2 separate regions of the Homo sapiens genome follow, and region 2 is linked to region 1. Evidence: fine-mapped expression QTL. Tissue or cell type: lung. Region 1 holds a variant in brackets; the other region holds the start of a gene. All regions are shown on one strand. Distances are from middle to middle.

What was found. PIP is the estimated chance that this variant, and not a neighbour inherited with it, causes the effect.
Region 2: it holds the start of SCUBE2, and the variant in region 1 is fine-mapped to the expression of SCUBE2 in lung (GTEx, PIP 0.95).

What each region holds. Positions count from the first base shown.
Region 1 is chr11:9,055,330-9,058,233 of GRCh38, forward strand. SCUBE2 (signal peptide, CUB domain and EGF like domain containing 2) reads right to left here. Exons shown (of 23, transcript NM_001367977.2): 10 at 464-580. All of the region lies in intron 1 of NRIP3-DT (NRIP3 divergent transcript), which reads left to right. Among named protein-coding and RNA genes, the nearest start is that of MIR5691, 34 kb to the right of the region's middle. The variant A/G (reference allele first, on the strand shown) is at 1,722.
Region 2 is chr11:9,090,160-9,093,063 of GRCh38, forward strand. SCUBE2 (signal peptide, CUB domain and EGF like domain containing 2) reads right to left here and starts at 1,440. Exons shown (of 23, transcript NM_001367977.2): 1 at 1,237-1,440. The coding sequence starts at 1,369. MIR5691 (microRNA 5691) reads right to left here and starts at 220; the gene lies at 153-220.

The sequences.
Region 1 (2,904 bases):
CTTCCAGCTCAAAGACCTAGTTGTGGGACTCAAACCAAGGCTTTGCAGCCAGTTCCTATGCATAGCAGGGCTGTGGAATTGGTGGGTGCCCCCCAAGCCTCTCTGAGGACTGTGACTTTACTATCTGCTGAGATGTTCCAATAGATAGGTTATCAGCTCCTGAGATACCCTTCCACTCTCTGAATACAGCCGCAAGTCAATCAAGTCGATAGAGAATTCACAGCTGGAAGAGCTCAGTTCTTCTCTCTGCTCCATTTCACACTCGGTGTGTTAAAGGGATACATGTGGGGAGATTTCCTTTAGCAGATCCTGCTCTCAAGTTGATGGACTCACCGCTATTGCTCAGGGACTGCAATGTACCTTTCATACCCCAATGTAGGAAAGCAAACCTCAGGGGTAGGCCCTGCTCCCCTCCAGGCCCAGCCTCATTCCCCTCCCAACTTGACAGGGGCAGTCTGCTCACCTCCACAGTGGGTGAAGCCATACAGGGTGTACCCTCGGTTGCAAGCACAAGCAAATGTGCCAGGGTGGTTGATGCAGCTGTGGTCACAGGTCCTATCCAAAGAGCACTCATCCACATCTGTAATGGTCAAAGGGAGAGGGGAGCTGAAACCCACTCTGAGGGATGAGTGAAGAATAGGTTTATGATAAATACCAGTTGCTGACCAACACCAAAAACAATACACACAGAGTAAAAAACATTATCTATCCATTTTCCTCACTCACTTGTGTTAAAGAAAGTGTGGAGCAGCCCACAAGAAGTATACTGACTGCCACGGCCCTCATTTCCACATTCTGTTGCAAACTGCACTTCCCTCAAAACTCAGTTGGTCTCTTTCACCCATGCGTACTTGCAGGGCTAATTTAAAATGTTTAAATGAAGCCAAATGAGATAACATACCTAAAAAGGGTTTTGTAAGCTACAGGTGCTAGCTATGCATTTTTATTGTCATATAACTATTAGTAAAACAGCAATATTAATTTATTAACTACGGCAAATTGAAAGGAGAAAACACTTGGTTTGGAGGTAAATCTAGTTCCCATCCCTTTCTTATTTTCTCAGAATTAGTCTTCTGGCCCCAAGAGGCCAGTTAATCCTAGGTTTTAATGCCCTCTGCACTGAAAGAATGCATCAATACTAATATCCTCACTAATTTTCTCTTTGCAGGCCCTGAAATGTGGTAGTTCAGCTCCACATTGGATGCTTTTGGCCGATGCCTTGGTTTTGCTCCTCCCCTATGTGCCAGTCCTATGAGTCTGCTAGCCTCCTGGTTCAGTGTGGAAGCCTCCTTGGCTGCAGCGGGGGTCATGCACAGCAGCCTCAGGAGGCTGCATTTGTCCATCTCAGCATCTCTTTCCCTGGGTCTGGCCCTCAACCTCTTTCTTGTAGGCTGGAATTTGAGTGCTTCACTCCCTGAACTCTGGAGGATTTTAACATAGTTACGACTTGTGTCTCCAAATGGATAAACCAGGACCAGTGCCGCACTCAGTCGAAGCCAACTAGACCACTGCTAGACCACTTTTTTCAACACCGAGTGTGCCATGAGAAACTATGTTAATAAAAGGCAAAAATGTGGAAGGAACAGGAAGAATGAAAAAGCAAAATAAAAAAGGGCAAATTCTTGCAAAACCTCTTCATCCCTAGCTTTTCCCAGAAATCCTGGCATTTCTTCAGTAAATTTGTTCTGTGCAAGTATTTGTTCTACCAAGACCGATCAGTG[A/G]AAAATGAGAAAAACCTAGTTTCTTCCCTAGGAATTGATGCCATTTTATGAAATCTGTTATTAATATCAGCCAGTTGTCGAGAAAGTGCACTTGTTCAGTAGCTGACTTTGGCTGCTCAGTATGGGCTTTTGCTTTGCCAAAAATAATGAGATCACTTTTCTAATTCCTTTTTAATGTGTTTACACAGCTTCAACAGTATTGCCTGCTCTATACACTAGGAAACATTATGTGGAACAGCAAATTTGCTTTCCAAGTCAAACTGAAGAAAACCACACAATAATTATCTAGAATTAACTTACTGAATTTAAAGAGGAATATACTTGAACTGCCTGACAAATTATGCATTAAGAACAAACCAAGAGAAAAACAAAACAAACATCACACCATAATATTTTTGTAAAAAGGTAATGCTACATCTTTGTTATCTAAGATGAAATCTGATACTCTGATTTTTATTTAATTCTGATTTTTTTTTTTTTTTTTTTGAGATGGAGTCTCGCTCTATCCCCCAGGCTGGAGTGCGTGGGCATGATCTCGACTTACTGCAACCTCTGCTTCCTGGGTTCAAGCGATTCTGGTGTCTCAGCCTCCTGAGTAGCTGGGATTACAGGTGCCCGCCACCGCGCCCTCCACCATGCCCCCACCTAATTTTTGTATTTTTAGTAGAGACGGGGTTTTGCCGTGTTGGCCAGACTAGTCTCAAACTCCTGGCCACAAGTGATCGACCTGCCTCAGCCTCCCAAAGTGCTGAGATTACAGTGTGAGCCACCACACCCAGCCTAATTCTGAGATTTCTAACAAAATAAATTAGTCCTTATTCCCAAAAATGGAGCAAGAATACATTACAGCACATCTTTCCTGAGAACTTCTTCTGCATATCAAAGGGAAGGTGCTCATCTAAAAATAGAAAACAGCTTTCCCCCACCCAAAACAGCTGCTAATACTAACAACAACTGCTACCTAGAGAAGTCTCCTTGCTGCAGCCCTTATATGGGAAGGATGTGTTTGAGAAGGGGTCTGAAATCCTCTCTAAGGATCAACAAGCATCTCCTCCCCACAAGCCCTCCCCCTCCCTCTCTGCCTTCCCTCTCTTCAAAGATCAAAGGCTGATGGTTTAAAGCAAGTGCTGGGCCAGGTGCGGTGGCCCACGCCTGTAATCCCAGCACTTTGGGAGGCCTAGGA
Region 2 (2,904 bases), 35 kb after region 1:
CAGGGTTGTCACTGTTTTCCTTCCTCTCTCTCCACTAGACAATGTCTTGACAACAGACTGCGTCTGTGTCCCTTATGCCAAGCCAGCGCAGTACCTGGCATGTGAGTAGGCAATAGTACCTACATGCCCGCTAAAGGAGGAAAGGACCAAACGGACAGACAAGCTCTGAACACCAAGCAGCTGTCTGTCAGCTTTCTCGGAGCTCAGAGCAAGCTTGTCCAACACAGCCCGTGGGCTACGTGCAGCCCAGGACAGTTTTGAATGCGGCCCAATGCAAATTCATAAACTTTCTTAAAACATTATGAGATTTTTTTTTTATTTATTTATTTATTTTTTTTTTTTGCTCATCAGCTGTCGTTTGTGTTGGTATATTTTATGTGTGGCCCAATTCTTCTTCTTCCACTGTGGCCCAGGTAAGCCAAAAGATTGCACCCCGCTGGTTTAGAGTATTTATGGGAAGTCTGCCCCGGGATCGGAGCAGATGTCATCCAGGGCTCTCAGATGCTGCGAAGCGGGGATGGTGTCCCCATGGCCGGCCCCCTGCACTCCCACCCCTGCCCATCCTCTCAACCTGGAAACCCGCCTTGGCAGAAGTATTTCCTGGGTTGACACTACTCCAGGATATTAATTAAAAACAAAAGCATTTTGAAAGTATTGCAAGTCCAGTAAGCACAGCACGTCCAGAGTCCTCTCTGGAAACCAAAGTTCTCTGCTGAAAACCTAGGCTTGTTGCTGCTTCAGGGTAATTCCCAGATCGGAACAGGCGCTGTTCCGCTGACAGAAAAGTCTCTGGAGCCCACCCCGAAGCCATCAGCAGAACTTGCCGGCCCCCAAAGAAAGAAACGGCAAAGCTGCCACCGCCTCGCGGATGTGCCCGGCCCGGCCCTCAGTTTCCCCGCCTACGCTGAGGCGCGGGACCCCAAGGCCAGGGTCCGCACCCTCCTGCCTGCTCGCCGGCGACGGTCTGACTAGCAGGCGCTCTGGAGGCATCCGGACCGGGGCGGGAACCGTCAGCAGCTCCGGGTCCGAGGCCGGGCCGAAGGACTCAGGGCCCCAGCGGTCGTGGCGCCTTGGCCCGGCCGGCGGGTGAGGTCCCGGGGGGAGCAGAGGCCCCCGCGGAGCTGCAGCCGCCAGCCCCGAGCCCCGCGCGCCCGGCTCTGGACTCCGCCGGGGACCTAAACACTCTTCCTGGCCCTGCCTGCTGTGCCAGGTGCGCCCCCGCGGCCGGACACTCACCCTCCTGCGGCCCCGCGGCACGGCCCCGACCCGGCGGGACGGCCCCCGCCAGCAGCAGCAGTGGCGGCAGCAGCAGCAGCAGCAGCAGCACCGCCCAGGCCGCCCCGGGACGGTTGCGGCCCGCGACCCCCATGGATGGCTCAGCGGTTGCGGGCAGAGGCGGCGGAGTGCGGGCGGTGGCGGCGGCGGCGCGGGGAGGTGTGCGCGGACGCCCTGCCCGCTGCCGCTGCCACCCCCGGCCCGGCCCCGCCCGCCCCCCGAGCCCCGGCCTCATTTTCACACGGTCCCTCCCGGGCCGGGGCGGGAAGCGCAGGCGGGAGCAGTGCCGCCCCGCCCGGCCTCCTCCCGTCCCCTCCCCGGCCTCGGGTGGAGGGGGCGCGGCCGCGGTGGCCCGAGCGCGGCTGTCAGCCTGGCGGGGCGGCAGCACCGTGCCTCGCGCCCCGCGCAGCCCTGGCACCCAGCCCGCTGCCCCCCGCATCCCCGCTCCGCTCCAACGCTCGGAGCCCTCGGTGCCGCGCCTGTTCCAGTGTGTTACAACTCGACCCAGGCCCTCATGTGAGGACAAACAGCCCTTCTAGATTGAAATATTCGGGGTCAGGGCGCCCAGAAAGTGTTCCGTATAGTCCCCAAACCCCAAAGCCATCTTGGGGCTTTCCACGTGGGAGGTGGGAGGTGGGAGTGGAAGGAATTGGGGGTGACTTCCAATTCGGGAAAACAGCTGTTTGAATGGAGAAGGTGACCCTGGCTTCTCTGCCCACCCCAGCACACCCTCTGCACCCTTCTCCACACTGCCCACCCCAGGCCCTCTGGGATCCTCCATCCCACAGCCCTGAGGGCACTGGTCCACTTGTCCCACTGTGGGGCACACTGGGCCTAGAATCCCTGCAAGCTACTTATGTATATCTCAGGGCAGCCTAAGGGGAAGGGGGCTAGAGGTCAAAGGTGAGCCACCAGAGACAACAGACAGCAGCCCCGACTTTGCCGGAGTACAGGTGGCATTTACGATCACCTGAACTCATAAACATCAGGTCTGGCTAGCTTCAAACACAGGCAGGGCCTAGCACCTAGCCTTCCATGAAAGACAGTCCTTGCAAGGGAACAGGTACACAGGGTCTTCCCATATCACACTTGACACGGATGGCTGGAGCCCAATACACCCACCATCACTCCAGGAACAAATATAGTAACAATTTCCGGACGCAACCAAACATCACACTTAGGGATAGTAATGTTCTTCACTGAGCTTCTCCGTATTTATTCAATTTTCTCCTGCGATTATATACATACACATATGTATATATGCAGGCACACGCACGCGCGCACACACACACACACCATTCCTTTGGAGATCAGAAAAAAAATAGATGTCACCAAAAAATCCCCACCTAGCTCATGCACAAAAACTCTTATGTCTTCTTGGGGCCTATCCACAGCCCAGAGCTCCCAGCCTCTGCACCCTCAGTACCCACTGTCTGCCACCCCAGCCCCCGAACATGCCCACGGGGGCCTGCCTCTTTGGGCTGTGGCTAGTGCAGCTGCTTGATGGAGCTATCTGAGAAAATAACTTTTCTGTAGTTGTTTTTCTTTTGACCCTTTCAGTGAAGGCAGGCAGGTTGCGTCCCTCTTTCTGTCTGCGCCTCCCTCCCACTCCCTTTTGTTTGGTGCTGA